Homo sapiens: one gene and its partners. The protein of the gene in region 1 purifies or fractionates together with the protein of each later gene. This does not show direct contact. Each region holds a gene or a part of one and is shown in the gene's direction. Other genes may lie near its edges. The genes, in order: SAFB, ATF1, SEPTIN7, SON, UTP14A, ACAT1 and HNRNPUL1.

Region 1 (4,122 bases):
GTTGCCGGGCTGGAGTGCAGTGGCTCACTGCAACCTCTGCCTCACGGGCTCCAGTGATTTTCCTGCCTCAGCCTCCGGAGTAGCTGGGACTACAGGTGCGTGCGTGCCACCATGCCCAGCTAATTTTTGTATTTTTAGTAGAGACAAGAGTTTCACCATGTTGGCCAGGCTGGTCTCGATCTCTTGACCTCATGATCCACCCACCTCAGCCTCCCAAAGTGCTGGCATTACAGATGTGAGCCACCGCGCCCGGCCTGTTGCTTATTTTTGACTGGCTGTTTCCTGAAATCACTTGTCAAGCTCCAGGAAATGTTGGAGAAAGGAGGCCCAGTTCTGATCACACACACACAGCCTGGGCCTCACTCCTGAGATCTTCCTGGGCTGCTCCTGTGGGCCCGAGAAGCCTTCTTCCCGCTGGAGTGTACGGTTCTGCAGACCACGTAGTGGACGCACAGCCCTGGAGTCTGTGCGACCCAGCGTCTTACTTAAAGTCAGCCCTGGGACCTGGCTGGGGGTGTCTAGGTCCCCTTCTGCAGCTCTACTGTTGTGCAGCAGGGTGCGTGAACGCAGTGAACGCGAACAACGCATGCAGGCGCAGTGGGAGCGCGAGGAGCGTGAGCGGCTGGAGATTGCCCGAGAGAGGCTGGCCTTCCAGCGCCAGCGGCTGGAGCGGGAGCGCATGGAGCGGGAACGGCTGGAGCGCGAACGCATGCACGTGGAGCACGAGCGCAGGCGCGAGCAGGAGCGCATCCACCGTGAGCGCGAGGAGCTGAGGCGCCAGCAGGAACTGCGCTATGAGCAGGAGCGGCGGCCCGCGGTGCGGCGGCCCTACGACCTGGACCGGTAAGCAGATCCATGCTGCCCTTAGCACGTGGCGTTCAGAATCGTGTTAGGGACCTCACAGTCCAGTTAGCTTGAGATTTTTTTTTTTTTTTTTGAGACGGAGTCTTGCTTTGTCGCGGAGGCTGGAGTGCAGTGACCCGATCTTGGCTCACTGCAAGCTCTGCCTCCCGGGTTCACACCATTCTCCTGCCTCAGCCTCCCGAGTAGCTGGGACTACAGGCGTTTGCCACCTCTCCCGGCTAATTTTTTTGTATTTTCAGTAGAGACGGGGTTTCACTGTGTTAGCCAGGATGGTCTCTATCTCCTGACCTCGTGATCCACCTGCCTCGGCCTCCCAAAATGCTGGGATTACAGCTGTGAGCCACCGCGACCGGCCAGCTTGAGATCTTTCATTCAAAGGAAGCATAGGCCGGGTGCGCTAGTTCACGCCTGTAATCCTAACATTTTGGGAGGCCAGGGTGGGCGGATTGCCTTAGCTCAGGAGTTGAAGACCAGCCTGGCCAACATGGCAGAACCCCGTCTCTACTAAAATACAAAAAATTGGTCGTGGTGACAGGCGCCTGTAATCCCAGCTACTGGGGAGGTTGAGGCAGGAAAATCGCGTGTACCCAGGAGGCAGAGGTTGCAGTGAGCCAAGATCGTGCCACTGCACTCCAGCCTGGGCAATAGAGTGAGACTCGGTCTCAAAAAAAAAAAATTAGAGACAGGAGGCTGGATAAAGTAGTGCTGGTTAACTAACCAGGTTCAAGGGTGGCACAGACCTCCTGAGGAGGGAAGCTCAGGCACGTAGAGAGCGCCACACGTGCCCTACTGCACCTCCTTTAAGGCCCTTTCCTTTTTTTTTTTTTTTGAGATAGAGTCTCGCTCTGTTGCCCAGGCTGGAGTGCAATGGCGCGATCGCTGCTCACTGCAACCTCCACCTCCTGGGTTCAAGCGATTCTCCTGCCTCAGCCTCCCTAGTATTCGAGATTACAGGCACCCACCACCACACCCGGCTAATTTTTGTTTTTTTTAGTAGAGATGGGGTTTTGCCATGTTGGTCAGGCTGATCTCAAACTCCTGACCTCAGGTGATCCACCCACCTCAGACTCCCAAAGTGCTGGGATTACAGGCGTAAGCCACCACCCCCGGCCTTGTCCTGGCTTTTTAAATCCATTGTAATTTGTTTTTGCTTATTCTAGAAATAAAGAATTAAAAAAAAATTTTTTTTTGAGACGGAGTTTTGCTTTCGTTGCCCAGGCTGGAGTGCAATGGCGTGATCTCAGCTCACTGCAGCTTCCGCCTCCTGGGTTCAAGCAATTCTCCTGCTTCACTCTCCCAAGTAGCTAGGATTATAGGCATGTGCTACCACACCCGGCTAATTTTTTGCATTTTTAGTAGATACCGGGTTTCACCATGTTGGCCAGGCTGTCAAACTCCTGACCTCAGGTGATCCACCCACCTTGGCCTCCCAAAGTGCTGGGATTACAGGCATGAGCCACTACGCCCGGCAGTAAGATTAATTTTAATTTCTCAAACATACTGAAGAGGAGGTATGAACACAAAATGCTGAGCATGGCTGCTGTGAGGAGTCAGGTGTGTAATTCCAGCAGTGATTGTGTCAGGCTTTACACGTGCACTGCAACCTGGCAAAAATTGCTGTTTGTTGTTTCTTTCTATTGCATGGGTTGAAGAGGAGCCCAGGTCATATATACAATGCAACTTCTATAAAGGGCCTTGTAAACTGTTCTAGGATCTATTATGCTTTGGTACGAAATCCTTCTGATGACAGTTCATTATGGTCATCTGTGTATTGCAGCAGTACATGGCCAGGGCTGCTGGCAGGGCAGGAGGTCAGCTTTGGGGCGAGAGAGATGGCAGGTGCACTTGACAGAGCCCCTCGGGGTGGAGGCTCACGTGGTCTTCCTGAGCGGAGGTGGCTGTGTAGGGCTCCAGAAGCCATCTGCAGGCAGCCCATAGGACTGACTGCTTAACTAATGGCTCCCTCTTTGGAAAACCGAGGCCGCTTTTCATCAGGGGAGGTGGGTGCATGGGACAAAACAAAACAACTGTGCAGTCACTGGGGTCAAATCAGACCTTGCCTCCTATAGGAGAGAACACTCTTGGTGAAAGTCATCCTGGTTCTGTGAAGTGCTAGGGGCCAGCTCCCACAAAGGTGATAGATACATTTGGGGTGGGGGATCCCTCTATCTCTGTCTCATGTCCCCTCACAGGCGAGATGATGCCTATTGGCCGGAAGCCAAGCGGGCCGCCCTGGATGAGCGCTACCATTCTGACTTTAACCGCCAGGACCGCTTCCACGACTTTGACCACAGGGACCGCGGCCGCTACCCCGACCACTCGGTGGACAGGTCAGTTGGGCCCCTGCTGGGCGTGCGGGTTTTCTTTTTCCTGGCTCATTCTGACTGAGAACAAGGACTCCTGGGCTCTCTGAACCCACTCCGTTCATCAGATGTATGCTGAGTCAGACCCGCAGGTCTCCTGCCTTCAGTTAGGGAAATTATGCTTTTCATTGGGGGCCTGATGGTCCTCTCTTTGTGAACAAGCCTCTTCTTCCCCTTACGGTTTGATTTAAATTGCCTTTTCAGGAGAGAAGGTTCAAGGTCAATGATGGGAGAACGAGAAGGACAGGTAAGTCTGAAGCTACAGTGGTAGCCACAGAATTTCCCATAGAATGGGTTCTTTTCCCTTCAGCGTGCCTTCTTCCTGCCCTTTCTTTGAGCAAGAGGCAAAATGAGGAAAGAGAAAAGTAAAGCACTAGAAAAGTCTAGGTTTGTGGAATGGAAATTTGGGATTATTTGGGGTTAGTCTTGGCTGTCAGTCCAAACAGTTACTCTGAAGCTGTTTTTAGCCTTGACCCTGGGGTTCTGTGTGCCACACTCACCACACATGTGCAACAGTGCCAGGGAACCTTGGGATGTGACCTGGCTCTGCTGGGAAGTGTCTAGTGAGCCGCACAGCTGACTCAGACAGGTGCATCTGGGGAGGCTGTGGTTGCTGTGTCTGTCCTCGAGTGCCTGCCCTCTTTTGAAAGTAAGGACATCCTTCATCACCCCAGGGCCCAGCTTAGCCTTGGAAAACAACTAGATCTGTGGTCTGTGCTCATTCTCTTCGGGGGCTAGCACATTAGAACAATAAGCTCCATTTTCTCCTTCCATCTTACATTGAGACTGAGACTTCCCAGGAGAGCCTTGGACCTCTAGTGGCTTTCCCTATAAACTTGGGGGCAGCACATTGCTGTGTGGAAGATGCCTCCTCTCTGAGGACTCCACTCATGAG
Region 2 (4,122 bases), on another chromosome or scaffold:
AGCATTGGCTTTTTAGAACAATAGTAATAATGATTAATTTGGGTAGTTTCATGGTTGTTGTTTTTTTTTTGAGATGGAGTCTCGCTCTGTCATCCAGGCTGGAGTGCAGTGGAGTAATCTCGGCTCACTGCAAGCTCCGCCTCCTGGGTTCATGCCATTCTCCTGCCTCAGTCTTCCGAGTAGCTGGGACTACAGGCGCCCGCCACCACACCTGGCTAATTTTTTGTATTTTTTAGTAGAGACGGGGTTTCACTGTGTTAGCCATGATGGTCTCAATCTCCTGACCTCGTGATCTGCCCACCTTGGCCTCCCAAAGTGCTGGGATTACAGGCGTGAGTCACCATGCCCAGCCTGAACCTGAGATTTCTTTATTAAGTAGGGGTCTCTCAGGAAGGCTATAACATCTGAAAAGAAACTTCTCAAAGTTAAGCTTTCTGGATTGCCACAGATTAGTATAAATCAAATACGAATTCACTCAAAAATCATCAAACGTGCAAGGACATAAACCACGTAAGTGAGAATTGGCAGAAACAATACAGTCAACTCAATAAATGCTGGGAAAAAAAGTATTTGATTAAATCCAGCACCTCATACATTTCTACCAAAAATGAATAAAAATGGGCTTCCCTAGCATATGTAGACTTTTAGAACTTAACTATGTATAGGACAGATCACCATTGCCCAAATTCTAGACTGGCCACTACCTGGTGCACATGTGTAATAGATATGAATAGCATTGCAAAGACTTTGGAAACTGAACTGACATTGGAACCACAACCCACAGAAGGCTGATCAGAACTTGTGGCCTGGACACAACCAGATTGATACCTTCTAAAACAAGAATATAGTCTAGGTCTGTGGCTCATGCCTGTAATCCCAGCACTTTGGGAGGCTGAGGTGGGAGGACTACTTGAGTCCAGGAATTTAAGACCAATCTGTGTAACATAAGGAGATCCTGTCTCTACAAAAAATACAAAAATTAGCTAGGTATGGTGGTGTGTACCTGTAGTCCCAGTTACTCAGGAGGCTGAGGGCAGAGGATCACTTGAGCCCAGGAGGTTGATGCTTCAGTGAGCCATGATTGTGCCATGCACTCCAACCTGAGTGACAGAACGAGTCCCTGTCCCAAATACACACATGCACATGCAACAAGAATATAAAACATTTTTTATTAAACAAGACCCAGAGTCTGATAGCATAATATTCAAAGAGTCCAAAATTACTTGGTATCAAAGAACAAGGAAAAATCTCAACTTGCACGGGAAAAGACTGTTGACAGAAGCCAACTCCTAGATGATACAAATGTTGGAATTATATGACAAGGACTTTAAAGAAGCTATTATTAAACTGTTCCAACAAGTAAGTGAATTTTCTTGAAATGAAAGGTATAAACTCTCGGCCAAAAATAGAGCATATAAAGAGAATAAAATAGAGATTTCAGAGCTAAGAAACACAGTAACAGAGATAAAACCTCATTGGATGGGTTCAATAGTAGAATGGAAATGAGAGAAAAAACGATCAACTTTGAAGATTATTCAATGGATATTATCCAATCTGAACATAGAAAAGAGATTGGAAAATTATCTAATTCTCAGCGACCTGTGCGACAATAATTAAAGATCTAAGATTTATGTCATTAGAGTCTCAGAAAGAGAGGAAAAAAGTATAGCGCAGAAAAAATACTTGAAAAAATAATGGCTGAAAAATTACCAAATTTGGTGAAAGACGTAAACCTACAGGTTCAAAAACCTCAGCAAACTCTAAACAGGATAAACACAAATAAATCATTGCCCAGACTTACCATAATCAAACTGCTGAAAGCTAAAGTTAAAGAAATCTTGTGAGTAGCCAGAGAATAATGGCACATTACTTACAAGAGAACATTGTGAATGACTACAGAGTGCTCATCAGAAACTATGGAGGTGAGAAGATAATGGAATAGCATTTTTAAAGTGCTAAAAGAAAAAAGAATTATCTCCTGGGTCTTGGCACCCAAAATTCTATGTCTACTGAAAACATCCTTCAGACTTGGAGGTCAAATAAATATTCTCATCAAGGGAAACTAAGGGAAATAATTGCCAGCAGACCTGCTGTAAAACAACTGCTAAGAAAATTCTTAAGACGAAAGAAAGTTAAGGAATGAAGAAACAGCAACAGAAATATCTGGGCAAATATAATGGACAGTTCCTCTCCTATTGAATTCTTTAAAATAGGGGTCCCCAAACCCCAGGCCGTGGATTGGTACCTGTCTGTGGCCTATTAGGAACCAGGCTGCACAGCAGGAGGTGAGCAGCGGGTGAGCGAGCCTTAGCACCCAAGCTCTGCCTCCTGTCAAATCAGTGGCATATTAGATTCTCATAGGAATGTGAACCGTGTTGTGACCATGCGAGGGATCTAGGTTGCATGCTCTTCATGAGAATCTAATATCTGATGATCTGAGATGGAACAGTTTCATCCTGAAACCATCCCCTGACTTCCCTATCCATGGAAAAATTGTCTTCCACGAAACTGGTCCCTGGTGCCAAAAGGGTTGGGAACTGCTGCTTTAAAATATATTTGATGGCTGGGCGCGGTGGCTCATGCCTGTAATCCCAGCACTTTGGGAGGCTGAGGCAGGTAGATCACCTGAGGTCAGGAGTTTGAGACCAGCCTGACCAACATAGCAAAACCCCGTCTCTATTACAAAGATAAAAACTTAGCTGGGCATGGTGGCAGGCGCCTGTAATCCCAGCTACTCGGGAGGCTGAGGCAGGAGAATCACTTGAACCTGGGAGGTTGCAGTGAGCCGAGATCATGCCACTGCACTCCAGCCTGGGCGACAGAGCGAGACTCTGTTTCAATCAATCCATCAATCAATTTGATGGCTGAAAACAAATTATGAAATTCTGATGGGGTTTTTAATGTGTGCAGAGGTAATATATAAGACATCTACAACATAAAGAGGGAAATATAAACAGTTCTAATATGGTGGTAAGGTTTCTACATTCCACCTGAAGTGGTAAAATAGTGATTCTATGTAGACTATAAAAAGCTAGGTATCTATATACCCCTAGAGCAACTACTAAAAAAAAACTACACAAAAAGATTTAGTCAAATATACAGTTGCTTAAAAATTAAATTTTGAAAAGTCTTCAAATAATCCAAAATAATGCAGGTGCAGGAACACAGAAGAATTTTAAAAACAGAATAAACAGAAAGCAAATAATAAAGTGGAAGATCAGCCAATACTGAAGATGGCCTACACTCACCAATTAAAAGGCAATTGTAAAACTAGACCAATATCCTTCATGAATATAGACACAAAAAATCCTCGACAACATATTAGCAAACCAAATCCAACAACATGTAAAAGGTAGTATATGCCATGACCAAACAGGATTTATCCCTGAAATGCAAAATTGGTTTAATAATTGAAAATCAATTAATGTAATACATCATATTAATAGAATCAAAACAAAAAACATATGATCATCGCAAGACACAGAAAAAGCATTTGACAAAAATCCAGTTACCATTTCATGATAAAACTGCTCAACAAATACATAGAAGGCTGCTTCCTCAACCTAATAAAAAGGGTCTACGAAAAACCCACAACTAACATCCTAATAAGAAAATAATGTGGATATCCCCTCTCACCACTTCTAAACATTGCACTCAGGGAATTAGTCAATAAATTAAATAAAAGGCATCCTGATTGGAAAGGACTAAGTAAAACACTTTGTACATGACAGTATCTTATATATACAAAATCCTAAAGAATTATTAAAATAGAACTAATCAACAAGTTCCAGCAAGGTTGTAGGATATAAGATCAATATAACAAAAATCAACTGTATTTCCATATACTAGCAATGACTAATCCAAAAATGAAACTTAAAAACAATTCTATTTACAATAACAAAGTATAAAAGGTTTAAAATTAAATTTATAAATTTAAATTATACTTAGATATGAATTTAACAAAAGAAACAGAACACATATACTGGAGGCCAGGCACAGTGGCTCATGCCTGTAATCCCAACACTTTGGGAGGCCGAGGCAGGCGATCACCTGAGGTCAGGAGTTTGAGACCTGCCCGGCCAACATGGTGAAACCCCATCTCTTCTAAAAATACAAAAATTA
Region 3 (4,122 bases), on another chromosome or scaffold:
TTGGTATTACCCGTATTTATTGATATGGGTTCTTTTTATTCTGGATATTTAGTTCTCTCTCATTTTCACAATATTTTTTCTGTTTTCTCTTTTGCTGCTTATTTTTGTTTTCAGTGCACTAATTTTGTTTTCAGTGCACTTTACGGGATATTTATAGTTTAAGTTATTGTTCAAACCTATGACCCTAAGATTAAGAGTCTCATGCTGTATGACTGAGCTAGCTGGAAGGCCACTAAACTGTTTTTCTAGACTCACGTCTAGTTGTCTCAATAATATTGAGTTACACAGTCACACATATTTCTAATTTAATTGTGTTTGGTTCGTTATATATTACATTTTATGAAATGTAAGGTCAATTCTGGAACCTTTCTCTATTCCAGTAGTCCAAAGGCCAGTAGTATATTGTTTAAACCACAGCAGCTTTATATAATATTTAAAAGTAGATTGTAATTATCTCTATTGTCCATATAGTCCTATTGTAACAAAATACTTTGTTTTTCACCTTTTTCAATATGAATTTCAGAATACCTTGAAACCTGTTATAAAAAGCCTGTTAAAATTTGCTTTGAAGTTGTGCTAAATTCATACTAATTTTCAGAAAGTTTTAGTACATTGTTTTTACTGTATCTAGTATTTTTGTGTTTTACACTTACCCATTCCCATTTTTGTTTTGTAATGTGCTATTTCTAAGTTTCAAACACTATCATATAATACATTTCTTTTTGTTTATTATGTGTTTCGATTTGGATTTTTACTGATAAAGGTAAAAAAGATGAATATGAAGTGACCTCTTCTTTCAAATTGGTCACATCCTGGTGGTTGTACTCAGGTCATTTTAATATACAACCTCTGACTAAAACCATTGCTTTTAGAGCTAGCTACTATTACTCATTTTTCTCGTCATCATGTATTTGTCAATTCCTTGTTTATTCTTTTTTTTTTTTTAAATATAGGTACGTACCCTAATTGTAAAAGAAGTGTGGTCCTATTTTTTTTCAGTGACAATTTTACTTCTGTTTACTTCTGTCTACTATAGTAACCATGTAACACAATTTGTTCAGGGTCCTTTTATAGCTGCTGGGAACCTTTGCCAAGAAAGTTGCACCAAAATATAAGTATAGACAGGGAAGCTAGGTTTAGGTATATTAGCCATTGGTTTGTTATGGGTTCAAATAAGGATAGGTAGTTGAAAATTATTTGGATGTCTGTATTCTGTTTAGAATTGGAGTGATTTTGAACATGATAATTTAATTTGAACTAGGTCATTTCTGATGTTAATAATAAGTTGTCTTCTCTAGGTTTCTGCATTCTCCTTATTAATTCTTGAGCTTCTTAATTTCTAGGATGTGTTTTCTCCCTGTGTCCTTCCCTAATCTTACACCTGTTGCTCCTCAATTTGTGTGTATGCACATGTACATGTAAGGATTTTTCTGATGAATGTTCAGGGAGCAGTGCTGTACTTAGTTTTACCTTACTTTTGCCAGATTCTACTAAAAATTTTACGTGAGTTTAGCCCTGTTTATTCAACTAAATAAGATACTTGGGAATTTATATCTAAAGGAAGAATCTCAGTCATTGTAAATAAATGACCTAAAGTCATTATTGTGGAAATCAATCAGAGAAATCCCTTTCTGGAGTTTTACATCCTTTTTGGAACTCTTTTGGTATGACAGCTATATGACTTTAACACTTCGGAAGTAATTGGATTTGGTGTTTATATATCAACTTCATAGTTAAAAAAAAAAAAAAGACTAGCGTAGTACTTTAATTTTAGATTACAACTTTGCATCATTAAAAAACAGTAAAGGATCTGGAACCAAGGACCCATATAGGAATCGAAGAGGCATGTAATGAACATAAGACTAATATACTAATTATGTATGGTGCTCTTTTGCTGACTACTTCTTCCATTTTAGATAATGAAAGAAATCCAAGAACATAAAATTAAAATATACGAATTTCCAGAAACAGATGATGAAGAAGAAAATAAACTTGTTAAAAAGATAAAGGTAGGTTCATCCCTGTACACACGCTAAAGTAATCTGAGGCCTTAAAAACATACTACAGCGTCCACAGGAAAGATCAAAAGTATCAGTGTTTTAAGTAGTTGGCTTACAAAATACCTAGGGAGATTTAATGTTGAATTCAACTTTATAGTTAACTTTGAAGATTAGCTAGTATATATAATAAGGAATTGTATAAACTACTGAGGTGAATAACACAATTCTTATTTCAAAGTGTTTTTAATTAACTGGCTTTCATATTATGTAATTTTTTTCTCTTAAAAAACAAGTGATGAGAAAGGAGAGAATTCGTTCTGTTATGTTTTAATTGCCAGACAAAAATGTATTTATTTTGTCTCTATAAAAGCCAACCAAAATTACAGCTAGATAGGAGGAGTAAGTTCTAGCGTTCTGTAGCATTGTAGGGTGGCTGTAGTTAACAGTAATTTAGTCTATATTTTCAGATAGCTAGAAGAGGATTATGAATGTTCCCAATACAGAAAAATAAGTTTGAATTGATAAATATGCTAATTACCCTAATTCAATCATTACATATTTGTATAAAGTTATCAGAATACCATACTGTACCCCACAAATGTGTACAATTATGTTTCAATTAAAAACAATAAAAACCAACCAAAAATTCACATCAACATATTTTCTGTATTTTATCATGGTTTTCTATGTACTTTGGCCCTAAAAATGGTATACTGAATAATGGCATTATGTAGGCAAATATCTTGGAATAATGAAATTCTTATACATTGCCTGTGAAGAATTTCTGCAGTTGTAAATAGCTGCTTAGGTATTTCTGGGAGCCACAGAATTGTGAAGGGCTGAACATGGATGAACACAAATCCAGTCACCAGGATTTGAATTTCCAAAGTTAGAGCTTAACAAATATACTATTACCTGGTTTAGGTACTGTTATAGTTGGTTTGTGATCAAGTAGGCAAGCTAGTCATTAGCCCCCCGCTTTTTTTCCCCCAAATGCCAATATAGTTTTTACCTTTTATCCCCCCCCAGGTATGGGACAACTTTCTGTAGTGATTTTTAGTAAATAATTTGACCAGTATATGCTTGAATATTCTTAACATTAAAGAGAAAATTTAATTTTATTTATTGTTTACCTTGGTGGCAATACCATGTGATGGCAGTTTACTAAATATTTGTTAAATGGCCTATAAAAACTAATGCAGAAACTATCGAAAGTAAATTTTTTTTTTTTTTGGCTAACCTGTTGAGTAATGTAACTTTTTTTATTTTTGAATTTGTGAGGACTACAGAGATGTATTTGAACAAGAATACTTTGTTTTATAGGACCGTTTACCTCTTGCTGTGGTAGGTAGTAATACTATCATTGAAGTTAATGGCAAAAGGGTCAGAGGAAGGCAGTATCCTTGGGGTGTTGCTGAAGGTAAGATTTTCTTCAGTGAATGACTTTCTAAAATATCTCAAAACTGATTAAAAATTTGTATTTATAGTAAGTAGTACAGTATGCACACTGTATTGATATAGTCTAGATTTTCAAGGATAATACTGATTTCAGGTTCTTGTAGTCTCAATTTTCTCTTTAAGTACATTGGTATTTTTCAAACCTGTATCCTACCAAGTCAGGCAAGTGTGTGTTAAGTCCTAAAGTTGTAGTATAGGTTGAACATTCTTAAAGAGAAAATTCAAAATGTGAATTGCTCCAAAATAAAACGTTTTGAGCACTGACATGCTGCTCAAAGGAAGCGCTCACTGGAGCATTCTGAATTTTGGATTTTTGGATTAAGGATGCTCGACCAGTAAGTATAGCACAGATATTCCAAAATTCCAAAAAAATTCAAAACACTTCTGGTCCCAAGCATTTCAAATAAGAGATACTCAACTTGCCCCACCCTGGCTGGCATCCTGCCTCATCATTAAGTCTATTTCTGTTTTCATATTTGAAAACATAACTAAAATTGAGGGGTTCTTTACCTGGGGCCCAAAGTTTGCTCCCAGGGAATCTAATGAACCACCTGGAATCAAACATTTGGAGAGAAGGCCAGTCACTTTTATCGGAACGTCAGATGGTCATGGACCCTCAAGAATGATTGAAGAAATTTGTAAGCCCAGTTAAAACATCCACAGT
Region 4 (4,122 bases), on another chromosome or scaffold:
TTCTTTATCCTGTTGTACTCCTGACTCCTTGTGTAATCATGGGCAAGTAACTCTTTGGAATTTCAAAGTCTCTGAGGTGTCTAGTGGTAATCAGTAACGTGATGGTTACCTATAGAGAGTTGCTATGAGTGCCAGTGAATGAGCTGAATTTCTGAAAAATGAGACATTGGTTGCTTTGTGTATTTTAATCTTGTAACATTTATTTCAATTTTGATAGCTTTATCTTTGTTGATCTTACTAACAAATTAATATGAAACATCATGTATACTCATTATGCCTGCCTTTTTTTGGGAAGTAGTTGCACTGATGTGTATAGTGAGTACACAGTTAGATTCATTAAGAAATTACAATTTCTGCAGTTTGCTGAGGGTTGGTGTTAGAATAAAGGGTGAAAATGTATATAGCAAAATATTTTAAAGATTGGATTAATCTTGGACTTCTATATTATAGTTACTATGAAAGTGATTTATATAATATTTGAAAAAATGTCTTTCATCTTTGGAAGAACTATAAATGTACATCTATTTCTTTAGTTTTAATTCTTTAATACTATTTAGTCTTGAAGCTAAGTACTCAGCCAGTATTTCAGGAAGTTAGAAATAAAGCTTATGGGTGTTAAAATAGGCACATAATACAGAGTCATGTACACTGCTAGGTAGAAACTTCTGAATGTGCTTCCATTACAAAATTTTGGTCTTTATCTAATGATGTGCTGATCCATAATGTTTGTATACTTATAAATGTGTTAATAACTTAAATAACTTTTAAAAAGTGAATCTTTTACTGACTCAATTGGTTTTCCCCTAAAATAATTTCTTCTGGTATTTGCAGTCTTGTAGGCAGTTAACAGACTTTAATAACTTTAAAATGTTTAGTAGCACCTTGAAAAAAGGCTTCAACTTTATATTTTATGTAAGATATACTTTGGGAAGCAAATTATTTTGATAAATTATGAGATAAAGATATGTTCAGACCAAATTTTAAATTATAGATAAAAGTAGCACTTAAAGGAAAAGATTCATTTGTATAGAATTACTGAAGAATATTTGATGCTAGTATCAACTAAAAAAGAAACTTTTGAAAATTAAAAATGGGCCACAACATGTAGAAGTCATTAGGCAGCTGAAAATTTAGGATGTATGATCCATGTTAAATATCACAAATATTGTCTACTCATTAAATGTTTAGTTGTGTTTAGAAAACCTGTCAAACGATCATTTTGGCTCTTCTTTAGTATAGTCCAGCATCTGCCTTATGTGTTAAAAAACACATGGAATACCAACATCCTCCGTGTTCTTTTTAGTTTGTTGCAGTGTATTTTTAGATTACAAAAAAAGCAAAGTTTTATCAGTAGTCTCATTAATCAGTAAAACATTTAAAGTAGTTCGTTTAAAAGAAATTTTATTTCTAGAATGGAATGATTTGGATGTGACCTGATAAATACAGTTTGTTATTGTGGTCTCATTAAATTAATCAGCTTTTTCACACTGGGGTAAAGAAACAGATGATGATACTAGGGAATGGAAACAAAATTGGAAACCTGGGTTATTTGGGGATTTATATTGTACTCTGCACAGTTGCCCTTTTTTTTAGGCGTGTTCCCTGGAAAAGAGGGACGGATGAACCTGGAAGTAAGTAAAAGACATTCTAGGTGTGTAGCATCAAGGCAGTTAATATCCAAGCATCAGCTTTCTCTTTATACATCTACACTGCATGGCCTGCACCAAATAAGGAACTGAACCAGGGGTATGTTTTTACCTCCACAGCTGCCTCCTTCCATCAGAGCACCTTGATGAACTTAATGTCTAGTCACACGTCATTGGCATGTTTTCTCCCCAGCATTTAATTACAAAGCTGGGAAACAAAAGATGATAGATACAGTTTTACTACTGCATACAAACATTTCTTTTTTACATTCAGTATTAACTTATCAATATAGGAGATGTGCATACTATTTCCTGAGCTACTGAAGTTTTTTTACTCTCTCTGTTGATAAGTTAATGACTTTTGCTATATTATATATTTATATATATATATATATATATATTTGGTAAGAGAACATAAAAACCTAAAATTTAGTAACAAGGGGAAAATAAAGCATGATTTGGAGATATGTTTCAAATTTTTAAAAAATGACCATAAAGATCAACAGTACAACTTAATACTGTTTGCTATATGTACATGGATGCCCTTTAATAAGAGGCATTGAATATTTCTTAACCTGTAAAAATAACTGTTGACCATGCTAATGTATATATACTTGTGCATCTTAGGACATTAAGTGGTTTGCTGCTTTGATGGAAATTATGGTTCAGTGGGTTGGATACAAGAGAGATGACTGTTCACAGAATAACCTGTGAACTTTCACCCCTCTGTATGGAAACTTGTTTCAGGGCCAAATCCTTGTAGCTGTCTTCTTGCCCCGGTCAGTGCCAGCCGTACTATTCACAACACTGCTGCTACCGAGGCCTAGGTATGTAAACATTTAAGGAGTTTTTTAAAAGTCTTTTAACATCAAGCTAGGTTTTAAAAGAATTCAAATTCATTTTGGCATACTTACAGGATATTTTATGTGATTGTTTTCTATTTGTTACTGTGTAAATTTCAAGAGTTTTTTTTTTTTTTTCTGCTTTAGGGATTTTCTAAGTAAAATATTTATACTTGCTTTATAGTAGAATGGGGAAGAAAACTTTGGATGACAACAGTATGCTTCTTCAGTGTCTAAACTATTTCTAAGTGATTTCTGGGCTTTATTCATAAACTAGGTACACCTGGGACAATTAATATCATTGATTGTTTTAACATTGCCTTCTTTTTATTTTGCAAGCTAAGAAGAGATACCAGTGAACCTAAATAGTGGACGAAAACAGGAGTGTTCTAATTTTTTTTTTTTGAGGGGGGCACGAGGGCTACTGTTTCAAAACTGCCATTTACTTGTCTTATTTGACTTCCAAAATACTATTACGTTAATGTGCAAATAATCAGAACATACACACTACAGTATGTATAAAGTATAGAGGAATTTACATTTAATTGCTATAACAGATCTAGAAGTAAAGTAAGATTCCTCTTTTTAGAAAGTAAACAATGAATCTGTCACCAAGTTCTAACTGTAAAATGGGGACATTTTACCTTTCTTTCTTTGGATAGGATCAGTTCTTAAGAGCAGCCCCGGTAACTGGAGGAATGGGAGCCGTTTTGATGAGAAAAATGGGCTGGAGAGAAGGAGAAGGATTAGGAAAAAACAAAGAAGGCAATAAGGAACCCATCCTAGTTGATTTTAAGACAGACCGAAAAGGTAACAAGTTCTTTTTTGGAATGTTTATTAACGTCTCCTTTAACATTACCTTTAATATATCCTTTTGAACCCAGTGATACTGAACTGAAGGCACTTCTTGTATATATACAGGTATTTGTCAGAAAAAACATTAACCCCTTTTGGGGTTCACAGAGCAGCTTATTTTTATATAACTATGGATAGAGACACCAGTTTGAACTTTTAAAAGGCACCTTTTGTTATGCTAGTTGCTAAATATGGAAATGTGTATATATCTAATTTTATTATTACACCTCCAAATTCAACTGGATTTCATGTTTAGAAAACAGGATTTCCATTTTATTTTCTCTTGACAAGGAACCATCCTTTTTTCTAGAGTTTAGTTTATTTTTTGTTAGATATTTTAGCACATCTTCATTATTTCCTATTACAATACTGGTTTAGTCTAGATTTCATAAACCCTGTTTGCTTTTTTCTTCCAAGCTCAGTAGTTAAGTTGGGTTAGAGTATAGTAGACCAGCTGCTGACAATAATGTTACTTCTTCCTGTTGCCTTGTGTTAAGGCATCTTGGAACTGTTAGCATTGACTGTATTTTCCTTTTACCTTCAGATACCTGGGCAGGGCAGCACTGTGTCTTCTATGTAGCTTGTATGTAGTTGCTAAGTATTTAATCATTCCCACAGATGATAGCTAATTGGCGTCTTTTAAATAACTTCTTCCCTTGGAATAATGTAAGTGGAATCATGAGAGGCTTGCCAGCTCAGTATGATTTTTGTATAGCTTGTTTAAACCTCATTTATAAAAGCTGACAAATGTAAAACTGGGATTTATTTTCATCTTTGTA
Region 5 (4,122 bases), on another chromosome or scaffold:
TTCTGATCCTAGGGAAATCAGGAACTCGATAACATTAATGATGCCTTAGTGAGGATATGTGAACAACAGAAGCCAAACTTTGCTTGTACAGGAATACCGCATTAAAATATAATGTGTTGCTGGCAATGACTAGAACTTCAGCAGGTAACTTACTATGACTCTGAGCTGCAGGGCAGGGGTTGATGTTTTAGAGCTGGGTTTCCCAAACACTGACCCCTAACAAAGTTTGTGTCTGAAGCAAAAGGATAATTCTAAGTATGTTTGTTTGGTGGGTGTAATGTTGCCAGTTCTTTTTTATTATGAGGTTATTCTATTTTAATGGTGTTGAAATATCTTTTCTTCTATGAAATGATGGTGGTAGTAAATGATGGGATTGGGGGTGAAATGGTAGTTATGCTCTTGGCAAAATTAGAAGTTGGAAATCCTATGTTGGTCCCTGAAGTCCGGTTTTTAGTCCGAATAACTGCTTTAGAACAGCTAGCCTACTTTTCCAATACACCATTGGTATGGAGTCTATAATGGGCTGATTAGTCTTAAATAGATGCCCTCTTTGTGCTTCTCCTCTTTACTTTCCAAAAACCCAAGAATGGTAGTTTCTTAGGCGTTGGGAAGTTGAGCTAATTAAAGCTAATCAAAGTAAACATTGCTTGCCACAATAGCTAGAAATTGAGCGAGTAGTTGCTTATTATGGGGATAAGCTGTTTCTGATGTTTTTGCTGAAGTCACTACCATTCTCTTTCTAGGAGGCTTCCTTTTCTACATGAAAAAGAGATCAGGTTTAAAGTGTGGCTGCAGGATGAAGGGAGACTTTAGAAAAAAAAAATCAGAGGTAATACAATTTGTAGGATTCAAAAATAAAAAAGCATAGAAGATATGTAGTGAAAAGTTTGATTCCACCCGTGCCCCATCTGATCATTTTTACCCCCATACTCACCCAGAAGTAACCACTTGCATAAGTTTGCTGTTGTTGTTGTCTTAGAGTTTTATTTCTATATTCATGTTTACCTCCTTTTTAAATAAAAAGAAGGGTAGCATGCTACTACACACTGTCCTCCACCTTGCTTTTTCCAAATGACAGTGTAATCTTGGAGATAGCAGGAAAATGCCAAGTTTGTTATTAAAAACGAGATGGGGCCGGGTGTGGTGGCTCACGCCTGTAATCCCAGCACTTTGGGAGGCCGAGGCAGGTGGATCACCTGAGGTCAGGAGTTTGAGACCATCCTGGCCAACATGGCGAAACCCCATCTCTACTAAAAATACAAAAATTAGCGGGGCATGGTGGTGTGTGCCTGTAATCCCAGCTACTAGGGGGGCTGAGGCAGGAGGATCACTTGAACCTGGGAGGCGGAGGTTGCAGTGAGCCGAGATTGTGCCACTGCACTCCAGCCTGTGCAATAGAATGAGACTCTGTCTCAAAATATATATATAAATAAATAAAAAATAAAAACTAGATGGTAGTGGAGGAGGTTACACTAAGAATAGAACAACCTCTTCAAGATAGAGTGAGGCTCAGATGTCATACATTGAATATACCATGCCGTTCATTCATTCTAAGACTGACTTTTGAGAAATTATGCTAGTAGGGCACAGAGAAATAAGGAAGTGCTTAGTTCAGAGGGTGCTTTGTGGCTAGCAACTCCTAGGTCTCTCCTTACAACTTAGATTGCAAAGTACCAACAACTAGTATATGCTGTATTAGGATTTCTAGAAACTGAATATCAAGTCTCAGACCAGGCACGGTGGCTCACGCCTATAATCCAAGCACTTTGGGAGGCTGAGGCAGGTGGATCACCTGAGGTCAGGAGTTCAAGACCAGCCTGGCCAACATGGTGAAACCTCGTCTTTACTAAAAATATGTAAATTAGCCGGGCATGGTAGCACATGCCTGTAGTCTCAGCTGCTGAGGAGGCTGAGGCAGGGGAATTTCTTGAATCCAGGAGGCAGAAGGTACAGTGAGCCGAGATCACGCCACTGCACTCCAGCCTGAGGAAAAAAAAAAACCCTCTACTCTTTCCCCGCCCTCCCCCAAAAAAAAGAAAAGAAAATCGAAAGTCTGTACTATAGTTTTGGTCCAGCTCCCTAAAATTTTGTTTAGCTGCAAATAATTAAGTGGGATAATGCATGAGAAGGCATTTGTAAACTGCAAAGTGCTAGAAATGCTGTGAGGTAACTTCTTTCACCCCTCTCCTCACTATTCTCTGTCTACAGTGGTATTTCCCAAGGCATTCTCCTTGAAACCTTAGTCTCTCATTATGCCTTCACAAGAGGAGGAGAGGAGGCATTGCTAGAAAATGCTGCATGCCCCTACTGGAGATCGGAGAGTCACAACATGCTTTAGCATTTTAAAGTCTATGAAACAGGCCAGACGGATGTGGTGGCTCACGCCTGTAATCCCAGCACTTTGGAAGGCTAAGGCGGGTGGATCACCTGAGGTTAGGAGTTTGAGACCAGCCTGACCAACGTGGCAAAACATCGTCTCTACTAAAAAATATTAAAAAATTAGCTGGACGTGGTGGCTTATGCCTGTAATCCCAGCTACTCAAGAGGCTGAGGCACCAGAATCGCTTGAACCCAGGAGGCGGAGGTTGCAGTAAGCCAAGGTTGGGCCACTGTACTCCAACCTGGGCAACAGAGTGAGACTCTGTCTCAAAAATAAAAAATAAAAATAAAGGCTATGGGCCGGGCGTGGTGGCTCACGCCTGTAATCCCAGCACTTTGGGAGGCTGAGGTGGGTGGATCACAAGGTCAGGAGATCGAGACCATCCTGGCTAACACGGTGAAACCCCGTCTCTACTAAAAATATAAAAAATTAGCTGGGCACGGTGGCGGGCGCCTATAGTCCCAGCTACTTGGGAGGCTGAGGCAGGAGAATGGCATGAACCTGGGAGGCGGAGCTTGCAGTGAACCAAGATCGTGCCACTGCACTCCAGCCTGGGCGACAGAGCGAGACTCTGTCTCAAAAAAAAAAAAAAAAAAAGGCTATGAAACAATGGTGAAGACACCTGTTGGATCTAATTTAACTTAGGGTGTACAAACTGATTTTATTAAAATTTCAAAAAAATTGAATTTTAAGCTTTTAACAGGGGAGGCAAATCTTGTTATCTGATGAGAAATGTGTTTGGGGAAGAGCTGGTCTGTCTCCACTGCTGCCTCCTCTCTCTCACCTTCTTCCCCTACTGCCCTACTGAAACTTCTCTCAAAAGGCATTAGTGAGGGGCCTCCGAATTGCCAAATCCCAAGCCCTCTTAGTCTTTAGCATATTTGACACCATTGGCACATTTCATTCTAAAAATCTCTCCCCTCTAGCTTCTGTGATATACTCTGGGTATTTTCTCTCTCTGGCTTTCCTTAGTCCTTTTTATTCTTGCTCTGTAAATTCCATGACTTTTTTTTTTTTTTTTTTTTGAGACGGAGTCTTGCTCTGTCGCCCAGGCTGGAGTGCAGTGGTGCAATCTCGGCTCACTGCAAGCTCCACCTCCCGGGTTCACGCCATTCTCCTGCCTCAGCCTCCCAAGTAGCTGGGACTACAGGTGCCCGCCACCACGCCCAGCTAATTTTTTGTATTTTTTAGTAGAGACGGGGTTTCACCGTGTTAGCCAGGATGGTCTCGATCTCCTGACCTCGTGATCCGCCCACCTCGGCCTCCCAGAATGCTGGGATTACAGGAGTGAAAATTTCATAACTTTCGACTATCACTCTCAACCCCTTCTTTGAAGCTCCAGTCTCATATTCCATGTGACTAGCAGGGATCACCTGGGTCCCCCATATGCACCTTAAACTTAGTCCAGTCCAAAGTAAGCTTCGCATTTCCTTTCCCCAGACTTCCAAAACCTATACCACCCCCTTCATTCTGCAACTCAGTTAACAGCATAACTCCCTACCCCAGTCACTTAGGTTGGAAACCTCAGTCATTTGATTCCTTCTTGACCCCTTCACTGTCTCCCTCTCCGCCAGCTTATACAGGGGGCTAGACCTGCAAATTCTGTCTCTGTAATAGCCCTTATGCTCCTATTTTCTCTTCATTTTCATTTTCACTGCCCTAATCGAGGCCCTCATTGAACCTTTCCTTTGGAACTTTACATATATCCTCTACACAATCAGCAGGATTTTCTTGCTGAAACA
Region 6 (4,122 bases), on another chromosome or scaffold:
TGTTGCTAATTTCTTTCTTTCTTTTTTATTTTTTGAGATCAAGTTTCGCTCTTGTTGCCCAGGCTGGAGTGCAGTGGCACGATCTTGGCTTACTGCAACCTTGGCCTCCCGGGTTCAAGCAGTTCTCCTGCCTCAGCCTCCTGAGTAGCTGGGATTACAGGCATGTGCCACCACACCCGCTACTTTTTGTATTTTTAGTAGGGACGGGCTTTCACCATGTTGGTCAGGATGGGCTCGAACTCCTGACCAGCTCACCAGGTGATCCACCTCTGATGATCTGCCCACCACAGCCTCCTAAAGTGATTACAGGTGTGAGCCACCACACCTGGCCCCCTTCCCTTTTTCTAATCTTACCCTAGTACACTCAGTTCCCCCGCAGCCAGAGTGGTCTTTTTATAACATAAAAGCTTTCAGTGGCTTGTCATTGCCCATAGGCCAGAATCTAGACCCTTATGATCTGCTGGGCCCTACTTAGTTCTGTGGCCTCAGCTGCTGCCGTGCTCACTCTGCTTTTGCCACAGGACCCTTCTTTCTATACTTAGTATGTGTGCCAATTTTGTTCCGAATTCGTGGCCTTAGTCCTACGTGTTCCTGATGCCTCAAATGTTCTTTTCCTGGATCTTTCCAAGGATGACTCTTTAACATTCATTTCTCAGCTCCATTAACATTGCTAGAAGGCCTTTTTTGACTCTCCCATGTAAAGTAGGCCGTCAGTTACTCTCTAGTTCATGATCAATTTTGCTGGTTTCATAACATTTACTGTAGCTGAAATTTTGTTTCTCTGAGTTATTGGTAACTTTCAGACTGTCTTCAAATATTTGTTTTGTGTCTGCTGCCATCACTGGGATAGAAAATAAATAAAATCAGTCTCTTCTTGGAATTCACAGTCTAGTGAGGAGAAAAGCCACCTGAGGGTTACAAAATTATATATTCTGGAACAATTAGAATGTGCACGGGCGTTGTGGAAGCTGAGATAGGAGTGCTGACCTCTGCCTGGCATGGCTGAGCCCTCCCTGAAAGATAATTGTGTTATGTAGATAAAACTTAATGGGTTGTGTTCATTCAGCATGTATTATTATACACTATATGGTTCAGTGTCCTGACCATACTATAATTTTGTCATTCGTTTCTGATATTGAAGGAGCGCTAGGCACTGTGCTAAGTCATAGGGATGTAACAGTGAGCAAGAGACACCATCCCGCCATCAGGAAGCCTGTATTATGTTGGAGGGGTGGATAATAAAACAAAGATGTGAACCACATACTTACAGTGTAAGAGGTGCTTTGAAGGAAATAAAGATATTCATATAAAAGAGAGGAAAAAGTAGAGGGTAACTTTAAATAGAGTAGTTAGGGTGGACCACTCTGGGAATGTGTCATTAGAAAAGACATGAAGAATAGGCTGGGTGTGGTGGCTCACGCCTGTAATCCCAGCACTTTGGGAGGCTGAGGCGGGCAGATCACCAGGTCAGGAGATCGAGACTATCCTGGCTAACAAGGTGAAACCCTGTCTCTATAAAAATGCAGAAAATTAGCCAGGCGTGGTGGCGGGCGCTTGTAGTCCCAGCTACCTGGAAGGCTGAGGCAGGAGAATGGCGTGAACCTGGGAGGCGGAGCTTGCAGTGAGCCGAGATCGCGCCACTGCACTCCAGTCTGGGTGACAAAGTGAGACTCCGTCTAAAAAAAAAAAAAAAGAAAAGACATGAAGAATAAAAATGAGCCAGCCATGGAGAGCTGGGAAGACTTTTTGTTTTGTTTTGTTTTTGATTTTTTTGGAGACAGGATCACACTCTGTTGCACAGGCTAGAGGGCAGCGGCGCGATCTCGGCTCACTGAAACTTCTGCCTCCTGGATTCAAGCGATTCTCCCACCTCAACCTCCCAAGTAGCTGGGACTACAGGTGCCCACCCCCACACCTGGCTAATTTTTGTATTTTTAGTAGACACGGGGTTTCACCATGTTGGCCAGGCTGGTCTCAAACTTCTAATCTCAAGTGATCCACCTGCCTCGGCCTCCCAAAGGGCTGGGATTATAGGCATGAGCCACTAGGCCCGGCCTGAGGAGACTATTACTGGCAGAGGCACACTGCAGAGACCTTGAGGTATCGGGATAGGGTTTAGAACAAAGAGATGCCAGTGGCTGGCACAGAGCAAGAGTGATGTAAATTTGGAGAGAAAACCTAGAGCCAGATCATGCAGGTTCTTGGAGGATGAGGTAAAGAATTTGTATATAATTCCAAGAGCAATGAAAAGCTGTTAAATTATTTTAAGCAGTAGAGTGATATGATCTGATTTACATTTTTCAAAGCTGGAGGGACTGTAGAGAGGTGTCAGGGGAGGCAGGGAACTAGGTAGAAGGCCATTAATAGGAACAAGAGATGGTGGCTTGGACTAGGTGGCAGCAGTAGACATGAGGCAGAGTGGACGAATTTAGTTATGTTTTGGACGCTGTTCACAGTATCTGGATTTTAGGGATTGCAATAAAGGGAAGGATGAAGGATGATTTTGGCTTGAGCACCTGAGAATACCGGCAACAAACAGGTTTTCTTTTTTTTTTTTTTTTTTTTGAGATGGAGTCTTCTCTGTCACCCAGGCTGGAGTGCAATGGCGCAATCTCAGCTCACTGCAACCTCCACCTCCCGGGTTTAAGCAGTTCTCTTGCCTTAGCCTCTGGAGTAGCTGGGATTACAGGCGCGTGCCACCATGCCCTGTTATTTTTTTATTTTATTTTATTTTTATTTTTTTGTATTTTTGGTAGAGACGGGGTTTCAGCATGTTGGCCAGGCTGGTCTGGAACTCCTGACCTCGTGATCCGCCCCCCTCGGCCTCCCAAACTGCTGGGATTACAGGGGTGAGCCACTGCACCTGGCCACAAACAGGTTTTCTAGGGTTGGAAATTGAGAGCTATGATTTGGACATTCACCTGCAGCTGTCAGGTTGGCGCTTGGGTGTGAGTCTGGTGGTCAGTTGAAAGGTCAGGGTTGGAGATAGAAATTTGGAAAATCATCAGCACATAGAAGCCTTTTTTTTTTTTTTTTGAGACAGAGTCTCACTCTGTCACCCAGGCTGGAGTGCAGTGGCGTGATCTTGGCTTACTGCAAGCTCCACTTCCCGGGTTCACACCATTCTCCCACCTCAGCCTCCCAAATAGCTAGGGCTACAGGTGCCCGCCACCACGCCTGGCTAATTTTGTTTTTGTATTTTTAGTAGATATGGGGTTTCACCGTGTTAGCCAGGATGGTCTCTATCTCCCGACCTCGTGATCTGCCTGCCTTGGCCTCCCAAAGTGCTGGGATTACAGGCGTGAGCCACTGTGCCCGGCCTCATAAATGCTTTTTAAAGCCATGGGACTGGATATAACTAAGGATATAGTGAAGTTAAATTAAAAGAGGCCTGGAACAAAGCCCTGGGACATTCAGCACTTGGAGGTTGGAAGGGGAAGATGAGATAGTAAAGGAGACTGAGGTAAATATGACTAATGAGGTAGGAAGGAGTCCACGTTTGTAATGGAAGCCAAGACAAGGAAGGGTTTCTGCAGTGGATTATACATATTACCTCATTTTATTCTCATAACAGCCTGTGGAGGGTATTTAAGAAAACCAAGGTAAGTGTGTCTAAGTAACTTGCTCAAAAATACTCAGCTTGCAGGGCACAGTGGCTCACGCCTGTAATCCCAGCACTTTGGAAGGCCAACGCAGGAGGATCGCTTGAGCCCAGGAGTTTGAGACCAGCTTGGTAAGATAGTGAGACTCTGTCTCTACAAAACAAACAAACAAAGAATACTGAGCTGGTAAGCCCAGGCTCTTAACTGCTCAGCATATTTCTCAAAGAAAGGTGAGCCCAGTCTTGCTGATGTGTTAAAAGGTTAAGTGAGACAATTATAGCGAGTTGGATTTTGCTACACAGACATTGCTGATGTTGCTCAGAACCAACAGTGGTAAACTGGCAGAAATAAAATCCTGATCTGAGTGGGTTGAACTGTAAAGAGGAGGTGAGGACAAGCAAATAGACACTGTAGGTAACCTGGAGAACCTTTCTTGCCAAAGAGAACTAAAGTAAGGTGAGGCCATGTGCAGTGGCTCATGCCTGTAATCCCAGCACTTTGGGAGGCCGAGGCAGGCGGA
Region 7 (4,122 bases), about 36 Mb from region 1:
TAATTTTTTTGAGACAGAGTTTTGCTCTTGTTGCCCAGGCTGGAGTGCAATGGCATGATCTTGGCTCACCACAACCTCCGCCTCCCAGATTCAAGTGATTCTTCTGCCTCAGCCTCCCAAGTGCTGGGATTACAGGCATGCGCCAGCATGCCCGGCTAATTTTGTAGTTTTAGTAGAGACAGGGTTTCACCATGTTGGTCAGGCTGGTCTCGAACTCCCGACCTCAGGTGATCTGCCCTCCTTGGCCTCCCAAAGTGCTGAGATTACAAGCGTGAGCCACCATGCCCGGCCTTGGTGGGGATCTTTTTATGGTACTACCAAGAGAGCTTCTTTGTACTTTTATATTGTCTGTAGTCATTGTATGACTGTACCATAATTGATTTAACCTAGCGCCTCCCTTTGGTGGACATGTCGTTACTTTTGCAGCTTTGTATTTAGTGACTGTAATGGCTGTCTAGTATTCTGATGCAGGGGTTTGGGTACCCTGCTTTAATTTAGCCCGTCTTCCTGTTAGTGGCTGTGAAAGTTGTTTCCTGGAACAGATAAATGCGGCTTGTCTTTTTTCCATTTACTGGAGTAACTTGGAGATCTTTTTGTAGCCCCACATATGGATCTCCTGTGCAATTTAGCCACTCCTACTTCCCCATTGGAGCACATTTTCCGTGCTGGCATGAGCATTTTGCACATAGAATTTTGCATTCTTGTGGGAATGTAGTTGTATTCCTTCTTGAAAGTTAGATTCTAAGTCAAAGGTATATTTTTAAATTTTCATAGCTACCACCAAGACTACACTCCAAACAGGTTGCAGTAATTTAACTTGTCACTGTGTGACAGTGTTTGCCAAAGTCTGTTCTTTCAGAGTATGAGGTTCTTTTGGTATGTGGCAGTATGGAACTCTAGGCCTTGACTCTTGCTTCAACCAGAACATCTCTGCATCCAGTCTTAAGATTCCTTATATAGTTTTCTTTGTTCAGAAGATACCACAACTTTAAAAAGGCTCAGGGTGAGGAGTTGGTGGGGGTGTAAAAATCATTGGTCTCCTGGAACAAGAGGGGAGGACATTGGTGTCAAATATCAAGTCCTCAATTTGCAAAACAAAAAGGTAAAACAGCCTTCCAAGTGGAGAACAGAATAACCCATTTCAGCAAACCATAAAGAGTATGATACTTAGAGCCTAGGGACAACAGAAAGAGGTGTGAGACACCAGGCTATAAAAATGGCAGGCTCTGAATTATGCCAGGCTTCAGGAGTTTGGGTCTTTAGGCCTGGGACTGACACAGGAGTGTTTCAGCAGGAACAACAACACAACTCCACTTGCCTTTTGGACAGATGGCTCTGTTGGTGGTAGATGGGTTGGTTGAGGGCGCCGGTTTCTGTGCATTATGGGAAGTTCCTATAGTGAAGCTGGTGGCCATAAGGAAGGCTAACTAACACCAACAGTCATACCTGCTCTCCATGGTCTTTTTTTTTTTTTTTTTTTTGAGAAGGAGTCTTGCTGTTGCCCGGCTGGAGTGCTGTGACATGATCTCGGCTCACTGCAACCTCCAACTCCCTAGTTCAAGTGATTCTCCTGCCTCAGCCTCCTGAGTAGCTGGGATTACAGGCACTCGCCACCATGACCAGCTAATTTTTGTATGTTTAGTAGAGACGGAGTTTCACCATGTTGGCCAAGATGGTCTTGATCTCTTGACCTCATGATCTGCCCACCTCGGCCTCCCAAAATGCTGGGATTACAGGCGTGAACCACCACATCCAGCCGCTCTCCATGGTCTTGACGTGGGTGCATGCTTAGAGATGAACAGGCATGAGGGCCTCTGACACAGAGCTGTGCCCTGTGAGCACTGAGGAGGTTAATGAGGAAGCTCCTCAAGGGAGGGTGCTTCTGTCGCTTCTTGAAGGGCAATTCCCAAGGTGGTCACCTGAATAGAGAAAGAAATTATACTTTCATATCAGAAAGCGAACCGTGTATTTTGCTTCAGTCTGCTATCTAATCTCAAGTTTTGAGCCTTTTCTTCTCTGAGATGGGCATTTAGAAAAATATTTAACAAACGTTTTAAAAATATAAATTTTAAAAAGGCAAAAAAACACTAAGAAAAAAAAGAGCCTCTCGTATCCTGCAGCCAAAGCAATGTTTCCAAAACACAGTTTTGAGCAGGCTGCTCCTCTATTCAAAATAAGTCAGACACTCTGCTCTGCCACCAGCATCAAGTTCAAATTCCTGCGGTAAATTAGAGTCCCTCACATGCCGAGGTAGGCCGTGTCCCCTCCCACCACTTCAGTCCCAGCCCCTTATTTCTAGCACAGTGCCTGACATTTTGCAGTGATAGCTCACATTCCTTGTGTGCTCACTGTGTATTAAATGTACTAGCCCATTTAACAGTTAGAATAAACATAGGCTGTATAAAATATTATTACCCCGCCCCCCTTTTTTTGATAAAGAAACAAGATGAAATAACTTAACCAAGGCCACAAGTTAGTAAATGGTAGAACTGAAGCCATCCACCTTCTAAAATGGGATCATAGGCTAGGCGTAGTGGCTCACACCTGTAATCCCAGCACTTTGGGAGGCTGAGGCGGGTGGATCACCTGAGGTCAGGAGTTCGAGACCAGCCTGACCAACATGGAGAAACCCCGTCTACTAAAAATACAAAATTAGCCGGGCGTGGTGGCACATGCCTGTAATCCCAGCTAATTGAGGCAGGAGAATCGCTTGAACCCAGGAGGCGGAGGTTGTGGTGGGCCGAGATTGCGCCATTGCACTCCAGCCTGGGCAACAAGAGTGAAATTCCGTCTCAACAAAAAGAGGGGGGATCTTAATTACTAACTTTAGCAATTCAATAAGTAGTTGTTACAGAATAAATGAATGTGGTCCCTGCATGGCTCTTCAGCTGTTCCTGAATTACTTCCCCCTCATCTTTTATGCCTCAGCCAATCTGACCTTGTGTTCTGTCACTGCTAGGCTTATATACAAGCAACTGAGAAACCTCAGAAACTTGCTTCTAGGTAGGTCATCTTACTGAATTATGATAGAGTGTCCTTGTCTCATTCCCCACTGGTCGCTAAGCTCTGTCGGTCCCAGATTATGCAGACATGTGTATCAGAAAGAGTACGAACTCAGGGAACATGTTGAACAAGCTGAACTCAGTTCGAAAAGGCCCTGCGGTGGCTTTCCTTCATCTGTTATATTCATAGACTGCCCTTTCTGGGTTTCTTTTGTTTGTTTTTGTAGAGATGGGGTCTCTTTCTGTTACCCAGGCTGTACTTGAACTCCTGGCCTCAAGCATCCTCCTGCCTTGGCTGCTCAAAGTGATGGGATTATAGGCGTGAGCCACTGCACCTGTCTCCTCATCAGTTTTCAGGACAGGACTGGACCACCTTTTCCTTCGTCTTCATCTCAGTCTAGGCACAAGACTCAAATACTTGGAGCTTCTTAAAATTACCTGCTTTAGGACAGGTGCAGTGGCTCAAGCCTATAATTCCAACAGTTTGGCAGGCCAAGGTGGGAAGATCACTTGAGTCCAGGATTTCAAGACCAGCCTGGGCAACATAACAAGACCCTGTCTCTACAAAAAAATTTAAAAATTAGCCAGGTGTGGAACATGCCTGTAGTCCCAGCTACTCAGGAGGCTGAGGTGGGAGGATTGCTTGAACCTGGAAGTTTGAGGTTGCGGTGAGCCCTAGCTGTGCCACTGCACTCAGCCTGGGGGACAGGGTGAGACCCTGTCTCAAAAAAAAAAAAAACAAAAAAAAAAAACTCTTGCTTACTTGCTTCATATCCACCAACTTTGGGGTCTTAGGCAAGGAGGACTTTGGGCTGGACATTCTCTGAGATGTTCACTGATGCTGCCCAGCTTACCTGTATGTTGGGGAAGGATGCACTTCAATCTGGAAAGCTGTCCACATTCTACTCCCTGCATCTACTGTCCTCACATTTGACTCCCAGTGCCTATGGCAAGAGTTGGCAATCATATTCCTTTGGCTTTTTCTCCTAGGATTTTGAATGTGGAAATGACGTGGAACTGTCTTTTACCAAGAATGGAAAGTGGATGGGCATTGCTTTCCGAATCCAGAAGGAAGCCTTGGGGGGTCAGGCCCTCTATCCTCATGTCCTGGTGAAGAATT

What was found.
Region 2: the proteins of SAFB (region 1) and ATF1 purify together in Homo sapiens (co-immunoprecipitation; one large-scale study listed by IntAct). This does not show direct contact.
Region 3: the proteins of SAFB (region 1) and SEPTIN7 fractionate together in Homo sapiens (co-fractionation; one large-scale study listed by BioGRID). This does not show direct contact.
Region 4: the proteins of SAFB (region 1) and SON fractionate together in Homo sapiens (co-fractionation; one large-scale study listed by BioGRID). This does not show direct contact.
Region 5: the proteins of SAFB (region 1) and UTP14A fractionate together in Homo sapiens (co-fractionation; one large-scale study listed by BioGRID). This does not show direct contact.
Region 6: the proteins of SAFB (region 1) and ACAT1 fractionate together in Homo sapiens (co-fractionation; one large-scale study listed by BioGRID). This does not show direct contact.
Region 7: the proteins of SAFB (region 1) and HNRNPUL1 fractionate together in Homo sapiens (co-fractionation; one large-scale study listed by BioGRID). This does not show direct contact.

Annotation. Positions count from the first base shown.
Region 1 is NC_000019.10:5,660,966-5,665,087, forward strand, and holds part of SAFB (scaffold attachment factor B1), read left to right. Parts: intron 1-552; coding exon 553-843; intron 844-3,056; coding exon 3,057-3,194; intron 3,195-3,431; coding exon 3,432-3,474; intron 3,475-4,122. UniProt on the Homo sapiens protein: Binds to scaffold/matrix attachment region (S/MAR) DNA and forms a molecular assembly point to allow the formation of a 'transcriptosomal' complex (consisting of SR proteins and RNA polymerase II) coupling transcription and RNA processing.
Region 2 is NC_000012.12:50,798,257-50,802,378, forward strand, and holds part of ATF1 (cyclic AMP-dependent transcription factor ATF-1), read left to right. Parts: intron 1-4,122.
Region 3 is NC_000007.14:35,880,568-35,884,689, forward strand, and holds part of SEPTIN7 (septin-7), read left to right. Parts: intron 1-1,916; coding exon 1,917-2,009; intron 2,010-3,323; coding exon 3,324-3,420; intron 3,421-4,122.
Region 4 is NC_000021.9:33,570,158-33,574,279, forward strand, and holds part of SON (protein SON), read left to right. Parts: intron 1-2,393; exon of another isoform or gene 2,394-2,473; intron 2,474-3,150; coding exon 3,151-3,298; intron 3,299-4,122. UniProt on the Homo sapiens protein: RNA-binding protein that acts as a mRNA splicing cofactor by promoting efficient splicing of transcripts that possess weak splice sites.
Region 5 is NC_000023.11:129,912,567-129,916,688, forward strand, and holds part of UTP14A (U3 small nucleolar RNA-associated protein 14 homolog A), read left to right. Parts: intron 1-12; exon of another isoform or gene 13-125; coding exon of another isoform or gene 126-144; intron 145-743; coding exon of another isoform or gene 744-829; intron 830-4,122. UniProt on the Homo sapiens protein: May be required for ribosome biogenesis.
Region 6 is NC_000011.10:108,124,247-108,128,368, forward strand, and holds part of ACAT1 (acetyl-CoA acetyltransferase, mitochondrial isoform b precursor), read left to right. Parts: intron 1-3,639; exon of another isoform or gene 3,640-3,733; intron 3,734-4,122. UniProt on the Homo sapiens protein: This is one of the enzymes that catalyzes the last step of the mitochondrial beta-oxidation pathway, an aerobic process breaking down fatty acids into acetyl-CoA.
Region 7 is NC_000019.10:41,288,253-41,292,374, forward strand, and holds part of HNRNPUL1 (heterogeneous nuclear ribonucleoprotein U-like protein 1), read left to right. Parts: intron 1-3,992; coding exon 3,993-4,122.